Regions from separate parts of the Homo sapiens genome. Here all the other regions are reported to be linked to region 1. The links are microRNA targets in miRTarBase. Many come from high-throughput screens and were not tested one by one. Region 1 holds a microRNA gene; each other region holds the end of a gene's coding sequence. Distances are from middle to middle.
Evidence for each region. Region 1 holds the annotated microRNA hsa-miR-6879-5p (CAGGGCAGGGAAGGUGGGAGAG, at 2,089-2,110, shown strand). A microRNA usually pairs through its seed, bases 2 to 8, with sites in the 3' UTR of a target mRNA and lowers its output. Matches are read on the target gene's strand: a 7mer-m8 pairs with bases 2 to 8, a 7mer-A1 pairs with bases 2 to 7 and ends in A, and an 8mer does both.

Region 1 (7,119 bases):
TTTTTGGTTTTCCCTTTCAGTGAGAAGTGCAGTGGAGAGAAGGAATCGCAGACCAGTTAGGCCACTGCAGTGACGCAGGCGAGATAGGATGGTGGCTTGGACCAGGATGGAAGTAGTGAGGTCATGGAAGTTTCTGGCCTGAGCAATTAGAAGGGTGAGGAACCATTTGCTGAGATGGAGAGGACTGGGGGAGGAGCAGGTTCAGGGTGGAGATGAGAACCCTGTGTGTGCCTGTGTGTGCCATGTGAGATGCCTCCGAGACAGCCCAGAAGTGTCAGGCAGGCAGCTGGATGTAGGCACTGAGGTCCAGTGTGTGGGAGGTGCACATTTGGGTGTTATCAGGATAGAGATGGTATTTGAAGCTGTGATCCTGGATGAGGTCACCCAGGGATGAGCGTGGCCAGAGAAGAGAACCCGGTTGTACCAGGATGAAGTCAGGTGAGGAGCAGAACCAGGTGAGGGTGTGTCCCAGTGCCAAGGGCAGCGCATGTGCTGGGGAGGAGGGTGAGCCACTCCATCAGGTGCTGAGTGGGGAACAGAAGATGACTGAGCGCTGTCCCAGCACTAGAGGGCCACAGGGAGGTCTTTGGGGACTGACCTTGGTAAGGACAGTTTTGGCCACAGCAGCAGCAAAAGCCTGATGGGAGTGTGTTCTTGAAAGAGCAAGAAGGCAGAAATGGGGGTGAGCACAAACAACTATTTTGAGATTTCCTGTAAAAGGAAAGATATAAATGAATAACTAGATGGGGCAGAGAGATCAAGGGCTTTGTTTGCTCTTTTTTTTTTTTTAATCAGACGGGGTCTCGCTGAGTCGCCCAGGCTGGAGTACAGTGGTGTGATCTCGGCTCATTGCAACCTCTGCCTGCCGGGTTCAAGCAATTCTCCTGTCTCAGCCTCCCGAGTAGCTGGGACTATAGGGGCCCGCCACCACGCCTGGCTGATTTTTGTAGTTTTAGTAGAGATGGGGTTTCACCTTGTTGGTCAGGCTGGTTTCGAACTCCTGACCTCAGATGATCCACCCACCTTGGCCTCCCAAAGTGCTGGGATTACAGGTGTGAGCCACCGCGCCCGGCCTATTTGCTCTTTTTAAGGTGGGAGAAAGAACGGCAAGCTCATCAGCCAGTGGGAATGATCAAGAGGGGAAGGAAACATGGATGATGGCTTGGGGGCAGGGGGTCATCAGCGGCTAGGTTCCAGGGGCTAAGGCTGGGCCTCAGGGGAAATGCCCTCCTCACCCCTCTCCTGGGCCTAGGTCATTTGCCCCAGCTCCGATGAGCAGGGAAAGGTGGTCGAGTCCAGGACCCGCCCACCCCACCATGCCCAACTGAGCTGCAGTGTTGGGAAGATAGAGGAGGGTGGTTCCTTCCACAGGTAAGCACACCCATTAATTTGCACTGTGCAGTAGCAGGTCTGGAATATTCCAGAAACAAATGAGGGTGGCTGCCTCCAGATATTTGTTCTTACCTTAGTTCTTCAAAAAGCTTGCTCCTTGTATTTTGGGTCTCAGCTCCAGACACCTCAGAGAGGCCTTCCCCGGCACCTGAGCTGAAAGAGCCTCCTCCGATGGCCCTCTTGGAAAGCCTCTCTGTTGTGTTGATGGCGCTAGCCGGGATCTGGCAGGGCCTTCTTTTCTCATTTGTTTGTACTTTATTGACTGTCTTCCCGCTAGAGTGTAAGCTTCCTAAGGGCAGGGCTTTGTCCTCTAGCACCCAGAAGAGGGTCTGGCACATAGTAGGTGTTCAACAAATTAAGGAGCCTTTGGTCAGTAGAGATGATATTTATAATTTGATACTTTCATATTTATTGTGGGCCGATTATGGTCAGGCATGTGCTCAACTCAGTTTGATACATGGTGGGAAATAATGAGTCCCCTAAGGGGCTCTGCAACAATGTCACCACCTGGCAGAGAACAGGGACTTCTCCTTAACCTGCTGCGCCCCAGTGGCCTGGACAATGCTGGAAAGACAACCATCCTGAAGAAGTTCAATGGGGAGGACATCGACACCATCTCCCCAACGCTGGGCTTCAACATCAAGACCCTGGAGCACCGAGGGTGAGCAGGGGCCCCATGGGAGGGCCAGCCCAGAGCAGGGCAGGGAAGGTGGGAGAGGGGCCCAGCTGACCCTCCTGTCACCCGCTCCTTGCCCAGATTCAAGCTGAACATCTGGGATGTGGGTGGCCAGAAGTCCCTGCGGTCCTACTGGCGGAACTACTTTGAGAGCACCGATGGCCTCATCTGGGTAGTGGACAGCGCAGACCGCCAGCGCATGCAGGACTGCCAGCGGGAGCTCCAGAGCCTGCTGGTGGAGGAGGTGGGCAGCTCCTACCCTTTGTGTACATGTATGGACGTGTGGCTGCCTTCTCAGCAGATGCCCAGAGGGGCCCGTGGCCCCAGAGGGAAACCAGAGGCAGGATCCCTTCCTTCTCTGGGCCCCCACCATGGGAGGCCCATGGTGCCAGAGGCAGGACACATGCTGTGGACTGAGATTGAGTTAACGTCCCTGTGGTGTTACTACGTCACTACCCTGAGCATCAGTTTCTATGCCTTGAAATGGTGATGATGACACCCACATCACTGGGCTTTAGGGAGGATAACCCAAGGCCAGTATGAAGCTTCGAGAGGCCATGGAGCCTGGCTCAAGAGTCTGACTCTTTGCTGTGTGACCTCAGCTGGGGGTGGTGGCACGCACCTATAGTCCTAGCTACTCTGGAGGCTCAGACAGGAGGATCAGTTGAGCCCAGGAGGTTGAGGCTGCAGTGAGCTGTGATCGTGCCACTGCACTCCAGCCTCCTGGGCGACAGAGCAAGACCCTGTCTCAAAAAAAAAAAAAAAGGAAGGGGCCAGGTGCGGTGGCTCACGCCTGTAATCCCAGCACTTTGGGAGGCTGAAGCGGGCGGATCACGAGGTCAGGAGATCGAGACCGTCCTGGCTAACATGGTGAAACCCCGTGTCTACTAAAAATACAAAAAATTAGCCAGGCATGGTGGCGGGCGCCTGTAGTCCCAGCTACTCAGGAGGCTGAGGCAGGAAAATGGCGTGAACCTGGGAGGCGGAGCTTGCAGTGAGCCGAGATTGTGCCACTGCACTCCAGCCTGGGCAACAGAGTGAGACTCCGTCTCAAAAAAAAAAAAGAAGGACACTTGCAAAGATAGTACAGAGGTCAGAGGTCCCCCATATACCCTTTACCTTGCTTCCCCATCTTACCTAACCGTGGCCTGTCCAAACTAATAAATCAACACTGGTGAATTACTATTATCTTAATTACAGATTTTATTTGAATTTCACGTTTTTCCACTAATATACTTTTTGTGTTCCAATGTTTGATTCAGGCTACAAAATTGCATTTAGTTGAAAATGAGGACACTTGTGAGAGTGAAAGGGGGGATTCTGCAGGCAGAGTGGGGACTGTCCTGGGCACACCGCACACATCTCCTATGTGGGTGGAGCAGGTCAGATGAGATCAGGGCCGTCAAATGCTGGTCAAGGCAGGTCAAGGCCCAAGGGTTAGACCCGTCCACCCACATCTCTCCCAATCACAGACACATATGTGGAAACAACTAGAATCAGAGGTGGACAGTGAGGCCTGTCGGGAGTGGAACGGTTAAAGGGCTGTGTGAACCCAGAAGAGGGAGAGTTCACATCCTCTGTGCATGTCTGGTCATCAGATTGGAGCAGTCTAGAACCACGGAGAGCTCAGGGATCATCTTATGCAACACCCCTCCCTGTTCATGGAAGAGGAAGCTGGAGCATGGGGACAGCGGTGTCCCCTGGGTGGTGGTTGGCTGGAACCAGAACCCTGGCCCAGGGCTGCTCCATTCATGTGGGCCAGCCTTGATGGCTACGTCCACAAACTCACTCCTGGGCCTCTCCCACCACCACGGGGCCTCACCTTGATCTTCCAGGTCGATCCTTCACCCCAGATGCTCTGGGCCATTAGAGGAGGGGTCAGGCTGTCCTCTGAGTCCCCACCCCACCCCTCTATCTTTTCTCCCCCAGCGCCTGGCCGGAGCAACCCTCCTCATCTTTGCTAATAAGCAGGACCTGCCTGGAGCACTGTCCTCTAACGCCATCCGCGAGGTGAGTCCAGGCCCCGGGACAGGCTCGCTGAGGGAAAGGGGCATACATTTATTTATTTTAAAAGCATTTATTAAAAATAACCAAAAAGGCTGGGTGCAGTGGCTCACGCCTGTAATACCAGCACTTTGGGAGGCCAAGGCGAGTGGATCACCTGAGGTCAGGAGTTCGAGACCAGCCTGACCAACATGATGAAACCCCGTCTGTACTAAAAATACAAAAATTAGCTGGGTGCAGTGGCGTGCGCCTGTAAGCCCAGCTACTCAGGAGGCTGAGACAGGAGAATCGCTTGAACCCAGGACGTGGAGGTTGCAGTGAGCCAAGATTGCGCCATTGTACTCTAGCCTGTGGGAAAAGAGTGAGACTTCGTCTCAAAAAAAAAAAAAAAAAGAAAGAAGTAAAATAATAATAAGAAAAGCATTTATTAGCCTAGCCCTGCTAGGTGGCAGGACCTATGCAGGGCACTGGGGATCCAGTGATTAATAAGGCATGGGGTGGCCCACAGCCTGGGGAAGGCAGAGCTGCGCATGTGTTGTTCACAGGCTAACGGTAGCCAGCACAAGTCAGTGCTTTCAGTATGCTCTGCTCCTTGCATGGATTAACTCATTTCATTCTCACAACCACCTCATGAGGTGAGAACTATTATTTTACAGATGGTGAAGCAGGCTCACAGAGGTTAGGTAACTTGTCCCAGGTCACACAGCCACTAAATAGACAGGAAGCCTGTGTCTGACCCCAGAGCCCACATTTTAACCATGATTCTAGTGCTCAAGCACCACAGTGAGAAAGAGCAGGGTTAAAATCTTGGCTCTGCCACTTATGAGCTATGTTCCCCTAGGCAGGTTGCTTAACCTCTCTGAACTTTGGTTTCCTCCTTGGTGAAATGGTCGACACAATCCCTGGCTCATGAGGGCTTGAGGAGAATGAGTGAGAGAGGGTGTGTGGGGCTCCTAGCACGATGCCCGGATCCTGGTGGATGCTCAGGAGCCCATGCTGCATTTACATCACTAAGGGGCAGCACTGGCATGGAACTGGACAGAGAGCCCAGGTGCCCCTGGGGTCTGACAAACTCTCCCTGGGACCGGCGGGGCTTCCTGGATGGGATGACATGGAGCAGGGCCTTGAGGAAGGCGTGGAGTTCCTCTGGGCTGGGGAGGGAAGGGGCTGACGGCAGGCAGGGTCTGCAGTCACTGGCCACCACCATCAGCACCTTTGTCCTCCCAGGTCCTGGAGCTGGACTCCATCCGCAGCCACCACTGGTGCATCCAGGGCTGCAGCGCCGTCACCGGGGAGAACCTGCTGCCGGGCATCGACTGGCTCCTGGATGACATTTCCAGCCGCATTTTCACAGCTGACTGAACCACTCCAGATGCCCCCCACCTAGCAGTCCAGGTCCCTCAACCTTCACCAAACACTACCCATGGGGGGTTGGGAGTCAGCCGGCCAAACTAACACTCCCCCTCCTCCACCCCAGCCTGCTGCTGCTACTGCTGCCCGCTGCTGCTCTGTGGCCACCCGGCTCCCATGGCGGGAGGGCTGTGCCCTGGCTGTCTCTCTGGCTCCTGACCTGGCCTTTGGCTACCATACCAAGAAGAGAGGGCTGGGCGGGGAGGAGCTGCTACTGCTGCTACCGAGGCTGTGGGCCTCATCCTTCACTCAGTTGTGAAATAAACCGCTCCTTGCCCCGATTCCTGGCTGAGTCATTTGTTGATTCAACAGCGTTAGAGACCACCTGGGACCCTCAATCTAGCAGGGGACAGAAAGGAATGGATCATTGGAGTCGATGGTGAACTGTGGCTATGTCAAAGGGATGCAGAAAAAGTTATAGAAGCATGGGACACGGTGCAACTGATTCCATCTGCAGGCTTCCTAAAGGAGGTCACATTAAAGCTGGGAGTAAAGCGCGAGTAGTTTTCTAGGTAGAGGAAGGGGAAGACAGTTCACCAGGGGAAATCCAACTCTCATAGGTATGAATTAGAAAAACAGACACAGCTGCAGACCAGGGCTCCAACTTTTTGCATGGAACATGGGCTGAAATTCAGCTCCCAATTCTCTGTTGCAGCCAGGAACCCATGTGCAGTGGACAACCTGAACAGCTGTACAAGGCCAGCACAGATTCAGGCAGAGGGGATCACAGGACAGGCATGATGAGCAAGGGCTCCGGCTGGGCGCGGTGGCTCACCTGTAATCCCAGCACTTTGGGAGGCCAAGATGGGCGGATCATGAAGTCAGGAGATCAAGACCATCCTGGCTAACACGGTGAAACCCCGTCTCTACTAAAAATACAAAAAATTATCCGGGCGTGGTGGCGGGCGCCTGTAGTCCCAGCTACTCGGGAGGCTGAGGCAGGAGAATGGCGTGAACCCGGGAAGACGGAGCTGGCAGTGAGCCGAGATTGCGCCACTGCACTCCAGCCTGGGTGACAGAGCGAGACTCTGTCTCAAAAAAAAAAAGCAATGGCTCTTGGGAAATGGGGAGGTGCATAGAGTCATGTGTAGGAGAGAGTGCAGCCAGAGGGTGGGAGGGGGGCCACATCAGGCAGGGGTAACTGAGGCCTTCCCTGAAGGCTACAGGAACTCAGAAGCAGTGCCAGGTTGGGAAAGGATAGGAAATGAGGCCACCCCAGGGGTCCAATCCAAGTGGCAAAACTGGCAGATGTTTTCATGGCACAGGGTCCTAGCAGCTGCTTACTCTGCAGGGTTCTGTGTGAAGGGGTGGCCTGTCCCTCCACACCTGTGGGTATATCTCGTCAGGTGGGACGAGAGACTGAGAAAAGAAATAGGACACAAAGTATAGAGAAAGAAAAGTGGGCCCAGGGGACCGGCGCTCAGCATACCAAGGACCCACACTGGGACCGGTCTCTTAGTTTCTTCAGTTTTTATTGATTATTACTTTCACTATCTCAGCAAGAAGAATGTGGTAGGAGAGCAGGGTGATAATAGGGAGAAGGTCAGCAAAAAAACGTGAGCAAAAGAATCTGTGTCATAATTAAGTTCAAGGGGAGGTACTATGCCTGGATGTGCACGTAGGCCAGATTTATGTTT
Region 2 (7,119 bases), 38 Mb from region 1:
TAATTACCTACAATCAGGCAGGATTATTACTCCCAATCTCTCTCAGTTCATTTTCTAATTCTCCCTAAAATGCTATTATTGTTCACTACAGTCACACTGATCTCTTTACTGTTTCTTTACACTCTGTACCAGCTCAGGGCCTTAGCATGTAATATTCCTTCTGCCTGGAATGCTCTCCTCCCAGATATCCACACTGCACAACCATTCACCTCCTCAGGCCTCTGCTCAATGTCACATATCAGTGTACATGCTACTTAATAGTAATCCTATCCTCACACACTCTCTGGGCCCCTTCCTCAACTTACTTTCCCCATATAACCTTGTCACCAAATGATAAACTATTTTACTAACCAATTAAAATAAAAATCCCATAAAGGTTCGAAATTACTGTCTTGCTTCGTGCCCTGCAATATATTCAGGCCTAGAATACTTCTTGGCATATAGTAGATGCTTGAGATTTGTTAAATTAATGATTTAGTCTAAGGAGAATATTAATAATTTTGTTTGATTATAAAAATGGCAGGATAACACAGGAAATCCTAGCTATTTCTTTTTATAAAAGACAGTAAATTTGTCAGAAAAAAATAAACTATCATAACTAACCACTTCTTGTTCAAGTAACAAGACGCATTCATTTAACACCTACTAAGTGCTGTGGATAGGGCCTATTTGAACTTCGTAACAATACTGGTAGGTATCATTATCGCCATTTTACAGAAGAAACTGAAAATGACATAGGTTAAGTGGCTTGTTTAAAAGTGACATTAACAGGAATGTCACAAAAAGAAAATCAAACTCAGGTTTCTCAGATAATACTTCTATAAACTCTCTCTCAATAGGCATAGTTTCAGGGAATAATGTAAATTTCAAATAGGTAAGATTTCTACATTTGTAGATAAAAGTAACTGTGTATGAACTTGCTCTAAGCCATTTTATTTGCATGACAGAATAGTAAAGTATATAAACTAACTTCACTTAAGTCAATACTCACAAGTTAATTCTGCTAAGTTTGATAAGTTAGTTTAAGTCTCAAATGACAAGTTGCTCAAATAAAGTTAGTTTTTCCTCTTTCATGGTTCAAAGGCAATTGTTAGCAACAGCAAATTTTTTTTTGACCTTCAAAATATGTGAGGAGCTTTTATCTGTGATCTATTTTCTATGTGAAAAAGTTAATTATTTCCCAGGAGTGGTGGCTCACACCTGTAATCCCAGCACTTTGGGAGTCTGAGGTGGGTGGGATCACTTGAGGGCAGGAGTTTGAGACCAGCCTGGCCAACATGGTGAAATCCCATCTTTACTAAAACAAACAAAAAAAAAAATACAAAACTTAGCTGGGCATGGTGGCAGGCATCTGTAATCCCAGCTACTTGGGAGGTTGACGCACGAGAATCTCTTGAACCCAGGAGGTCGAGGCTGCAGTGAGCTGAGACCGCACCACTGCACTCCATCCTGGGTGACAGAGTAAGACCCTGTCTCCAAAAAAAAAAAGGGAAAAGTTAATTATGGCTAATATTCTACACAAAACACACACAGCTCACAGAGTTTTGGGGAAATCTGGCTCTCTCTATATATTCACTTCAAGTATTTATTAGCTTTTTAAAATCCACAATTTTAACCTCATACTTAAAACCAAACCCATGAAGTATGTGGAAAAAATTCATTAATATCTTAAAGCTCAGAAAGCCAAAAACACCCCAGAAGGATAAAACTTCTAAAAAATGATATAATTTGGGGGAAAGCTAAGACATTTTTAATAAAACGTTTGCTATTAACTCCCATTTATGGACCATAGAGCCAAAAATAAATGCAACAAAGCTCCAATAAAATTGGCATTATAAGACAAGATTCAATACTTAGGTTAAAATCTAACCTTACTATATAGTGTTACTAGATGTATTTTAAGGAATATTTAACACATGGTAAATCAGAAACCATGTAAAAATGAGCCATATTATAAGAGGTTCTAATACATGACACAGCATACACAGCAAAATGTTTCATCGATCCTAAAAAGAAAATGGTCACACCAATAACAACTGGTCAGGAAAAGGAGCAAAGGAAACACTATCTGTACTAATAGAATGTAAAAGATTGTAAGGTGGACACAGCAAATGTATGATCGATCAGTTTTAAGACTGTTTTTAAAAACATAAATAAATTGTGCTTTAAAAGATCTAAAGATTTGTTCCAGTGAAGTACAAGTTCACTAGAAAAATCTCTACAATTAAATTAATGACAACTTATCCAAGGTTTGGGGCAGAAATTCATCTTTCCACAGTCTGTAAGTTTATCATAAAAATTAGACTGCTTTTTGGGCTTCCACCATACTAATCATAGGTCTATTAACAAAAAAGAACAAATCTTAAACAATAGGTTTACCTGGTTCTTACCAAATATTCCTGAAGTAATAAAACTATATCATTAAAAAAAGATATAATCCAGAATATTTAATAATTCAGACTAGCCTTTCCTATTGAGGAAGTTAATGAAATTGTTATTCCTCTTTCTCCTGAAAAAAAAATGATCCTTTCTTTGAAATGTTTCCTTGTGATGATTTCTAATGTCACTCAAAAAGTGGTATTTCCTCAAGAGGGAAGGATTCCTCCTTAGAGGTAAGAATTCTTCTTTAGGAGTAAGACTTTTGGGTTTTTTTGGGGGGGGTTTTAATTTTATTTTTTATTTTTGGCCTTTTGCTTTAACAAAGAAAGGCATTTAGTTTTCCTTTTTTTTTTTTATTAAAATGCCCTCAATTTATTTGATGCCTTAGACATTTAAAACATTAAGCTGTAAGAGCCTTGAAGGCCAGAACAAAGTTTTATCAGAGATGAATTATCACAATAGTTTTAAGTACACTTCTTTAAGAGGGCAGAAGAACAACACCTGGCATTCTTACCAATTACACCTCAAACTGAACATATATTTCAATAAATCCTTTCATAATTTCACATTAGCAAGTAGGCAGACAGGACATGTTTTGTTGAAGAAATACTTCAAAGTGAAATGTTTCATTTTATACGTATGTATCATGTATTCTGAATCTGTGCTATTCCACATACCTTGTATGCCTTGAAAACTCTGGAGTTATCTCAGAATTTACTCCCACCCCGACCCCGAGTGATGGCATTCAATATTAAGATATAATTTTTGGTTTGCTAGATGAAAAGGCATTTGTATTTAAGAGAAATACTCCTCAATCTAACATTCCCAAAGAAGGCTTCAAATTGCAGTTCAAGAAACACTAATCTAGAGTGCTTCTGAGTAAAAACCAATAAAATCTATACATTATACACAAAAATGCTACTACTGTCAAAAATGTATTATATCAATAATTTTATCAGCAGCATTTAAGAAATAAGAAATCATTAGACAATAGAAGACAAACATGGTAATGCAGTCAGGCCAGCACACAATACACCGTTTTCATCACACACTGTCACCTGAATCCCTGGCAATTTCCTAGAGGTATTAACATCATACCTTATTAAGAATTATTGGCCCCGAGGAGTGGGGGGGTGGGGGGGTTGCAATCTGTCCAATCAACATCTGGCTCTACTTTCTCCCAGTAGTATTACATTTGTATAATATTCTTATAGAAACAACTCAACTCCATGTTATAAAGCACCATACGGTATTTCATCCTGTACAAAGGGAAGTAGTTCTGAAAATTTTACAACAGGGTTCGTGGGAAGGCACTTAAAGCTAACTAGTCAAAAAAGGAACCACAACAGTTAGACTTTTTTATACTGCAGGGTCCTTAATATTGTATTGTTTATATCACTTAACATTTTTGATCATAAATTTCCCAGTAAATTAAATGCTATTCAAAATTAACAAAGGAAAGACAGGAAGGGACACAGCCCACACCCTGACTGATGAATTAGGCAGAGTAAATTTGCCTTCAAAGTAGGCAAATGTTATAACTTTAAGAAGGTAAGAGAAATAGATGGAGCAATAGAGTAAAGCAAGCGTGGCCTCAGTGGTACTGGACTCCAAAGTATGGCTAGGGTAGGATAGGACAGTTGACTTTAAGGGAAAAAATAAAGTAAATTTCATTTTCAGACTCAAAAAGTCTTAAAGGTATCTTTGGATAAGTATGCAAAGTAAATACTGTTGACCCTTGAACAGCATGAGTTTGAACTGTGTGGGTCTGCTTATACGCAGATTTTTTTAAACCAAACATGGATTGAAAATACAGTATTCCCGGGATGCGACACCTACATACACGGGGAGGGCTGACTTTTTATACAGGCAGGTTCCACAGGGATGACTGTAGGACTTAAGTATGCACAGATTTGGGTATACACAAGGGTCCTGGTATCAATCTCCTGCGTATACCAAGGATGCCTGTGCTTTCATAAATATACCTTTTAAAAAACATGTCATCTATAAGCTTTAAGTGTTCCCTATTTTACTCAAATACTGAAGATGAAAAAGATATTACCATTAGTTCAGGTTACAAATGGACAATTTATAAGATTTTGCTTATATGTTTTGGAATTTAACAAAAGTGGATATGTTCTTCAGTTCAGATGTGCCTTGAAGAGTCAACTAAATTATAAATTTAAAGGTCTACAAATCTAAATGCTTTCCTTATAATAAATTTGATATTAAAACATCATTCATAATATTAAATCCTAACACCACTGGTATGCTCAGTTCATAACTCAGTGATTCTAATACTTAAGAGGAGCATTCTGTATTATCCTTTTCTATAAGACATTTAGGAAAACTGTCTCCCACTATTATGGGTGTTTCAGAAAACTGTACAAAGTAATCTTATTAAGAAGGCAAGTAAAACAGTGGCAATCATTTTTTTCCCAGCTGATTAACTAAAAAGCAAACAATAAAACACTTTAAAATGTCATTCTCTTAGGTAATCAATATGGAGAAATCATTCTTTAAACAAATTCACCACTGAAAAATCAACCTTTACCTTAAATCCTAATAGAAACACTCCCTTATTATGGAAAAATAACCTCTTTACTTCTCTCTACTCAAACAATGACACTAGAAATGTTTCTGAAGTTGTGACTGGGCTATGAATATGAACAAAGTTTTCATATCACTGGGATACTGGATGGTTTGAAAAGGAATGTACAAACAGGCCTGCTGCTAGTACAAAAGTGCCTTTTACATGAATTAGGAAAGCCTTCCCTTTCCTCAAGACACTTGATTACCAACAGGCAGAAAATTGTGATAATTAGCAAGCTGCAATACTACCAACGTAAATGGCTCTATTGAGTTGTGCACAATTAATTATACCCAGAGTTCTCTCATGATTCCTTATTCTATTGTCTTCTTTTCCTATGTGTATCTTAATTAAATCCATATCACAGCTAACGTTCTCTTAAGGCAAAAAAAAAAAAAAAAAGTGCTTTAAACAAAATTCCCTATATAATGACAGTTAAAAATATAAATATGCTATTATCAACAATAATAATGATGATACAACTTAATAATACAACTTTTTTAGAAAACAAAACAACTGGACATAATCTTTCCAATTCTAAGCTCTCTGAGATAAGACATCTGCATAAGACCTTGGCAGCTTTTATAGAAACCCAGAGCTAAAAGTAGGAGCATTTTTCCAATACCTAGAAATGTTTATTAGCTGCATCAGCAAATCATTATCCCAGAAGTCAAGGCCAACAGTCTTCCAAATTGTGCAGAGATGACTATAATGAGCCATACCATCAGCAGACTATGTTGCCAAATATTAAGACTGTTTAAAATCTTGAAAATTCTGTAAATTCACGGTGAATTGGAACCTCAAAAATCAAAAAATTCAAATTTACAAAAATAAATACCACTCTGACACTCAAGGGACATCTTCACTTTAAGGCCTTTGTCACAAATCTGAATCTTTATTGTTCTGAAATAAATGTTATAAACATAACTCAAAACAAAAACTTCAATATTCAGTCTAAGAAGAGGTGTGGCTCAATGCCCATCACATGTAACAAGAAAAACCTCCTTTAAAAAAAGGAAAAAAAAGTACTATGAGAAGTCTTTCATATGAATGAAAATGCACCCGTTGGATTTTTTTCCCCCTCATCACATTAGCTTGTATACACGTGGGAATTGAAAGGTTTGCATTTTCTTCACATAGTTCTTGCTATGATGTCTGACGGACTTTTTGCCACTCAACAAATTCATCAAGAAGAACAGGCCCTAGAAAAAAAGAAACCATTTTTGTCAGAATTCAGTGAACTCATCTCTCCAATTATAAAACAAACTCCCCACGAGCTCTGCAATGACAGAGGAATGACCCTTCCTTTCTTTGGGTGTTCTGCTTCTAGACACCTTATTCCATTTAATGGTGCTTTCTTATTAGCCTTTTCTTTTTTGCCCTTAAAGACACAAGGAACAATGGTATCTATAGCAACTTCCTTCTCAAGGTGTTTCATGAACCCTCCAGTAACTGAGTCAATACAAATCTCTCCCTTTTTCTAAGTGTCCATAGCATTCTGGCATTTAATTATGAAACAATCTGAAAAGTGTTGAAGGTAATATTTCTATGTTGCCTCCCCAAGAAGTGTACAAGCTTGTTGAGAGGGATCAGCCATAATAGAGACTTACTTTATTCCAATAACAGGATGTAGTACAAAGCTGAACACAAAGCAAGTGCCTAATGAATATCTAATTAATGAGCTAAGTACTATTCTAAAACATATATTTTTATAACGTAGGGGAGGTCCAAACTCATTTGCTGACAGAGCCAAGTAGGCAGTTTAAATGAGCTCAGTGTTTATTTTGTTTAAATGTAGGAAAAAAATCACCGCCACAAAGAAATATGCTTGCTTTATTCTTCTTAAAACACATAATCCTCTGGTGGTCTTTTTCCATTGCTTTTGACAGACATGTTTCTCTATCGTAAGAAAAGCAGCAGAGCACATATGATAATAAATGGCAACTGAAAAACAGCCTAGGTGTTGGCATACCATGAACTGTCAAACTGAAAAGCAAGTCCAACACAGTTAACACTTGACTCCAGCCTCTGACTCCTATAAAGGAGTACTATAAAGGTACAGTTTTGTCAGACTTTTTAAATTTTTCCAACAAATCTAAATGTTGTATTTTAATACAAAATCTCCTAGTTTTAAATGCTGATACAAAATA
Region 3 (7,119 bases), not on the chromosome of region 1:
GGAAGTAACTAACTTGCTTTTGATGTTATAGGCTCATAGGCAGAAGGGGCTTGCCTTGTCTTTGATGAGACTTTGGACTGTCGACTTTTGAGTTAATGCTGAAATGAGTTAAGAATTTGGGGGACTGTTGGGAAGGCATGTTTTGTTTTGAAATGTAAAAATGGATATGAGATTTGGGAGGGTTCAGGGGTGGAATGGTAAGGTTTGGCTGTGTACCCACCCAAATCTCCTCTTGAATTGTATCTCCCACAATTACTACATGTCATGGGAGGAATCTGGTGGGAGGAAATTGAATCACGGGGATGCGTCTTTCCCATGCTGTTCTTGTGATAGTGAATAAGTCTTACAAGATCTGATGGTTTTAAAAATGGAAGTTTTGCTGCACAAGCTCTCTTCTCTTGTCTGCTGCCATGTGAGATGTGCCTTTCAGCTTCTGCCATGATTGTGAGGCCTCCCCAGCCACCTGGAACTGCAAGTCTAATAAACCTCTTTCTTTTGTAAATTGCCCAGTCTCTGGAATGTCTTTATCAGCAGTGTGAAAACAAACGAATACAGCAGAGATCAGAAAACTTTGGCAAAGGGTCAGATTCTAAACATTTTAGGCTTTGTACATCGTATGGCCTTTGTGGCAATTACTCAACTCTACCATTGCAGCACAAAAGCAGCCATAGGTGACCTGTAACTAAACTGGTGTGGCTGTTTTCCAATAAAGCTTTATTTACAAAAACAGGCAGCTGGGGATTTGGTGTATGGGCCAATGTTTGGTGACCCCTGGTCTAGAGGGACGACACAAACAGCCCAGGAGCCCAGCAGGGCCCTGACACTCCTTAGAGCATCTTGCTATCGAAATAATGCATTTCCTAGTCACTGAAATCCCTGTTTGCTTATTTTTTGTTACTTGCAGCCAGAAGCCCCCAGACAGATACAAGTGTGCCAGCTCCTGTGCCCACTCCTCCCCTGTTTCCTACTGGCTGCACTGGGGTGGGTGGGGGAGGCCAGGGGTGGACAGGCAGCTGGATGGTGCACATCTGTCTACTCATATCTGACTGTCCATCCATGGGAAGATTTTGAGGAAATTGGATGAGGAAACAGCGTGGGTGGGATAGAGCATCCCAACTCTTCCAAGCCAGTGACACAGAAGGCCGGCTGACTTCTCTGCCTCGGTTTCCATGTCTGAAGAATGGGGTGTTGTGAGAATGGAAGCAGTTGTGGAGTGCAGGCCTGGTCCCTCCTGGGAGCACGTGTTTATCCCCCATGGACAATGGACGTGAGTCTGGCCCTGACCTCAGGCAGTGCAGTGACCTTGGGGAGGAGCCATGAACGCCACAAGCAGTGCAGTGACTGCCTCAGTAGAGCCGGCACAGAGAAGCTGGGGGCATCCTGGGAGGCTTTCTGGAGAAGGTGCTATCAGAACTGGGTCTGGGTCTGAATGATGTCAGGGCAATGTGGGCTTTGAGAGAAGGGGATCCCAGGCAGAAGGGGCAGCAGTGAGCATAGCCACAGGGAGAAAATGGGGTGTGTGGGGGGAGAAACCGGTGCATGTTGCTGGAACATCTGGGAGATGCCAGAGAGAATGGGAAGGCTCTGCAGGGCCTTGTGAGCCTCGAGGGAGGTCAAGGCTGCAGTGAGCTATGATCATACCACTGTACTCCAGCCTAGGTGACAAGGCGAGATCCCCATCTCTAAAAAAATTTTATTTACAAGTAACGCATGGATTTTTGACAGCAAGGGGGTTCAGCGTGCCTTGAACCCCTCGTTGTTCAAGGGCCAAGTGTAGTAAAATAAATGAGACAGGGTCTGTAGTGGGTGCTGCAGGTGCCCCCAGGTCCCACTGGAACCCTTTAGGGAGTCTGTACAGCCCTCCCCCTGTCTCCATGAGCATTGCTAGTGGCTGGCTTCTGGGAGGACAGTTCTGCAGCTTCTGAGACTCACTCCTCCATCTTGTGCACCAGGAGCCAGAGGGGTCTGGGACTCTACCTTTCCAGGGTCCAGAGCCCCCACAGGTCCTCTTGGGATCAAGCTGAGGCTGGAACTCTGTCCACAAGTGTCTCCCTTGCTCAGGTTCTCCCCCTCCTTGATCCTCTTCCCTGACTCCCTTAGCGGAAGCCCCCTGGGAGCACATCCTTAAAACGTCCTAATCCCTTACACACAAGGCCACGTCTTGGGGTTACTTCTGGAAGAACCCTACCTAAGACAGTTTCTTTTTTCCTTGCAGACCTTATCAGAGCTTTCGTCATGCTATGGTGAATAATGATTTCCCGACGGAGGAAAAGTATGCAGTGTTTTGCAAAATTGTTTAACAACGACCACCCCCTTTACCAGAACCTGCCTGAGCTAGTGTTTTCACTGGGCTCCCTGAATGCTGCCTGAACTAATAAAACAGAAAGTTTGAACGAACTGTTCAAGGTTGCCCAGCAGCTCCGAGGGATCGCTTCGCCTCCCTTGAATGCACCCGGGGTTATTGTAGAAAGGGGTGGGAAGTGAGAAGAGCTACATTTGGCCAAAGAAGTGAAAAAGCCTCATTCCAAAGAATTGTAAAATTTATTGTATAAGTATTGCAGCTTTTCAGAATGTCATCATTGCCACTAATGATTACTGATACACAACAAGCAGTTTCTTCAGGCCTGTGGATTGGCATCCAAATACAGAGTCTTACGCAGCGGGGACGTGGGTGCGCGCCCCGCATGCCACGGAAAGCTTACATAAGTTTAACTTGAACAGAGCTTGGGAAATGGGGCTGCAAAGGAGAGCAGTTCCCACGCCAGGAACCAACGTGAAAGCATTGGAATCAGCACAACAGCCATGGAATCAGGCAGGCAGGGGAGGACGGGCTGTGTCCTTCTGAGCTCTATAGTACAGCAAGATTTCAAGCAGTTTCCAGAAAAACAACAACAACGACATTTTCTTTCCTTATCGACGGGATATTTTATGGTTCTGGAAGCTTCGTGTTGCACATAGGAAAAAAAATTTCTCTGAAACGTACAATTCATAGGGACGACCAATGAGGACAGGGAATGAACCCGGCTCTCCCCCAGCCCTGATTTTTGCTACATATGGGGTCCCTTTTCATTCTTTGCAAAAACACTGGGCTTTCTGAGAACACGGACGGTTCTTAGCACAATTTGTGAAATCTGTGTAGAACCGGGCTTTGCAGGGGAGATAATTTTCCTCCTCTGGAGGAAAGGTGGTGATTGACAGGCAGGGAGACAGTGACAAGGCTAGAGAAAGCCACGCTCGGCCTTCTCTGAACCAGGATGGAACGGCAGACCCCTGAAACGAAGCTTGTCCCCTTCCAATCAGCCACTTCTGAGAACCCCCATCTAACTTCCTACTGGAAAAGAGGGCCTCCTCAGGAGCAGTCCAAGAGTTTTCAAAGATAACGTGACAACTACCATCTAGAGGAAAGGGTGCACCCTCAGCAGAGAAGCCGAGAGCTTAACTCTGGTCGTTTCCAGAGACAACCTGCTGGCTGTCTTGGGATGCGCCCAGCCTTTGAGAGGCCACTACCCCATGAACTTCTGCCATCCACTGGACATGAAGCTGAGGACACTGGGCTTCAACACTGAGTTGTCATGAGAGGGACAGGCTCTGTCCTCAAGCCGGCTGAGGGCAGCAACCACTCTCCTCCCCTTTCTCACGCAAAGCCATTCCCACAAATCCAGACCATACCATGAAGCAACGAGACCCAAACAGTTTGGCTCAAGAGGATATGAGGACTGTCTCAGCCTGGCTTTGGGCTGACACCATGCACACACACAAGGTCCACTTCTAGGTTTTCAGCCTAGATGGGAGTCGTGTACAAACCTTGGCAAAAAAAGGTTGGAGGAGCAGGAGTAACCTCACCAAGCTAGGCACCTCCCTGGTAGAGACAGGGTGAGGACGCGCGAGGATGATGGGGTGTCTGAAAAGCAGGAGCCCTTGGTGGACCCTGGGAGGGGATACCAGTCCCAGGTGAGTGAGGCACTGTCCGGGAACGTCCTCACCGAGCGACGGGAGTGTCACTGCTTCTTCAGTAAGGCACTAGAGACGCGTCACATAAAGGAAAGATACGTTTTAATCATCTTTACAAGTGCGTCCTTGTACCTTTCGGGATAACCTGTACTGATTTCTCTGCAGGACCTTTTCAAAGAATCCTCTTCAAGAGAGAAACAAATTTTAGGCTGACGACTTCACGGAGAGGCAGGTTCTGCTGTTGCCAATGAACGAGAACTTTCTACTAGGCTGGCGGCATGCAGAGCCCACGTCTGTCAGCTGCCACCTTCGTAAAGCACACGTTTCACATGCATGAGCTCGAGTGGCTAGAACTTCAAAACTGTGCTCAGGTTTTTGTTTTGGAAGTTATAAAAAAGTTGCTCACAAACAATAGTTATTGCCTTTTATATCTTTTATGTTAGTCTACTAGTCAGCATTCTGCCCAAAATGGAAAGCCACTCCCATGGGAAGGGAGGGGGTAGCAGCTGGGAGTCTGCTCTTCCAGCTGGGGGCCCTCCCACCCCCATGGGGAGGAAAGACGTCAAGCTCCAGCCACTGGCCCCGGTGGGTCCCAAAGCCCCACCCCTCATGCTCTCCTCTGGTCACCTCTATTTACGCTCACATGCCCCTTCCTGTCCTTCACCTGCACGTCACCAGCAGGTCCCGCCAACCCCAAATCTATCTGGTGAAAACCTGGAGAACAAGAGCGGAGTCTAAGAGAGATGTAAATGAAAACACAGATCAACAGACACACCAGAAGGGAAGCGTTGTTTCCGCGGGGAAAGGAGATGGAAAGGGGAAGAGAAGGTGAAGAATTCTGCGCCCGAAGCTCGGGTTGGTGTTTGCTCAACTGCTTTACTCATTTTAACCCTTTCACCTATCCTGGGAGAAACCCAGGCTTGTCACCTTTTCATGTTGGGTTGTTTATTGGCCTCTTAAGTGAGAATTGATCCGTGAAGGGAAACAGACAGGAGGAGGTCAGATTGCGAATACCTGGGGCTTCCTAGGGTCCAGTGCGGCAGTTACCGCACCTGCCTTCACCGGTGAACCTTTAGCCAGCTGAACAACCACCAAAGCGCCCTGCAGAGACAAGTCATCGAGCCCTCTGGCATGTCCCTGGTAGCCCGGGCACCAGCCGCTGCGGCTTGTGAGGGGCACCATGCTCCACCCCACGGGGACCTTCACAGTTGGAAAAAAGAAGAGGAAAAACTAATTCCTTCGGTAACAGTTTATTTTCATTTTTGGGAAAGGCAAAACCACTACCTGGAACTCGGTGCCTCCGTGGTTAACTTTCCTATTTTGCTTGTGATTTAAAGGCTGTTCTGGGTCAGGGGGGAAAAGGTGTCTCCTTCGGTAGGGAATATATAACGTGGTGATAACCTGTCACTAGGCAGAAGCATCCACTCTGCAGGGACAGTGGCCCCTCGGGAAAGCCCGCCGCTCCTGGCCAAGGCCTCTCTGCAGACTCCACGGGGGCTCACCCTCTGCCGTCAGGCGACTCTGAAATTCCGACATTTCTCCCTTAAAGTCTCAACAGACACAAGAGAAGTTTCCATCAAGCAAGCACTGACATATTTATATTAAAAAATAGTGCAAAATCTCAACATTTATATAAATAACTCTAAACCCCTGCTTTGTAATTTTTTTCTTTACAAGGTAATACACACTTTCTGACTTGGCACTCAAAAATTGCCATTTTTTTCCTCTTCTAGTTCAGAAAACAACTTTTTTTTTTAATAGGCCTCTTCTAATACAAAAATACTCCTGCCCTCGCACATACAGTTTCTCTTATCTTATATATATTTATATATATAATATTGCAGATCTTTAAACAAAGGTTTTGTGCAAATATGTCTTTAAAGTTAAGTGAAATTATCATAAACAAAAGAAAATAAGCATTCACGCACGCAGCTCAACTAGAAACAAGAAAGACTACTGTAGAAATTTTTTTTCTTTTGCCTTCAAGACACAGCTCAACAAAGAAACGTGGTTTTTTTTTTTCTTTTTTCTTTTTTTTTTTGCAAGCTCTCTTAGCTTGTGCATTCAGACCAGACATCACATGTAAATATTTATACACAGGGAGGTGGGAGGGGAGGGCCACACGATGCGTTGCTGCGCCCCCCGCCTTCCTCTCACTCCTCTTCTAAGAAGCGCGGAGTGTTCTGCCTTTTCACCTACGCAGCCCCAGCCCGGCCCCCCTGGGGACCCTAGAGAGGGTGTCCTTTCTGTTTATCCTTCTCTTTGCTCCAGATGGCTGCGCTCTCTAGGGGCGCGATGTGTGTGTGGTGGAGCCGGGTCCCCTCCAGCAAGGAGGGCGGCCCACTGCTCTGCTGGTGCTGGAAGGAGGACCCCGGGTAGTGGCCGATGACCTCGCTGTAGGTGGGCGGCGGCCCCTCCATGCGCCCGCCGCTGCCGTAGCACGTGGCGCTGATGCCCGAGTTACTGCTGGGGGGGCAGGGGCCGCCCAGCCTGGCACTATCCATCAGGTCACTGTCGAAGATGGTTCTGTTTGGGGGTGCGCGCACCGACTCCCGGTTCAGTTCCAGCTGCTGCTCGGGGTCCCGAAGCTGGAGGGTGCAGGGGCCCTGGTAGGGTGGGGGCTCCTCCCCGTCTGACAGCGAGATGGTGGGTGGCAGGTCGATCTCGTGCTGCAGGTACGGATAGGTGGGCTGGAAGCGGTGGAAGCGCTCCCGCTGGGCGAAGGGCGGCACGGCCAGGCGGTCGGTGGGCCGAGGCGGGGCGTAGACCTGCGGCTGGAGGAAGCAGAGCGGGAGTGAGGGAGGGCGGCTGTCTCAGGTGGGTTGTCCAGAAGCGATCCTGAGACTGGAGTTCTGCTGCATGGGACTTGGCTCTCTGGGGAAAGGGAGAGGGCAGCAGGGCTGGCGGGGGCGGGAGCCCAGAGCCTGATCCCGCGGGGGCCCTGGCCTGGGGGGCAGCACTGCAGAGCTGCACCGCCCTCCTCCAAACAGTGGCAGCGTCCGTGCTCCCGTGTGCAGAGAGCAGAGAGCTGGGCTGCTCCCTCAGGGGCAGGGAGCAGATGATCTCCGGCAAGGAGGATCCCAGCAGCAAGGGCACTGCAGAGGAGGGCGGAGGGGTGAGCCTTTAGCAGCCCACACTGTTCCAGCCGCAGCGGGAGCAGCCCAGGGT

Region 2: the mRNA of DCUN1D5 is a reported target of hsa-miR-6879-5p. Seed matches in the 3' UTR shown: 7mer-m8 at 2,863-2,869 and 7mer-m8 at 1,247-1,253.
Region 3: miRTarBase lists PMEPA1 as a target of hsa-miR-6879-5p. Seed matches in the 3' UTR shown: 7mer-m8 at 3,607-3,613.

What each region holds. Positions count from the first base shown.
Region 1 is chr11:65,016,422-65,023,540 of GRCh38, forward strand. It overlaps MIR6879 (microRNA 6879), which reads left to right and starts at 2,084; the gene lies at 2,084-2,149. ARL2 (ARF like GTPase 2) reads left to right here. Exons shown (of 5, transcript NM_001667.4): 2 at 1,943-2,053; 3 at 2,150-2,312; 4 at 3,998-4,078; 5 at 5,300-5,763. The coding sequence ends at 5,434. ARL2-SNX15 (ARL2-SNX15 readthrough (NMD candidate)) reads left to right here. Exons shown (of 11, transcript NR_037650.2): 2 at 1,943-2,053; 3 at 2,150-2,312.
Region 2 is chr11:103,056,244-103,063,362 of GRCh38, forward strand. It overlaps DCUN1D5 (defective in cullin neddylation 1 domain containing 5), which reads right to left. Exons shown (of 8, transcript NM_032299.4): 8 at 1-6,171. The coding sequence ends at 6,116. Among named protein-coding and RNA genes, the nearest start is that of DCUN1D5, 32 kb to the right of the region's middle.
Region 3 is chr20:57,645,874-57,652,992 of GRCh38, forward strand. It overlaps PMEPA1 (prostate transmembrane protein, androgen induced 1), which reads right to left. Exons shown (of 4, transcript NM_020182.5): 4 at 2,523-6,725. The coding sequence ends at 6,180. Among named protein-coding and RNA genes, the nearest start is that of ZBP1, 29 kb to the left of the region's middle.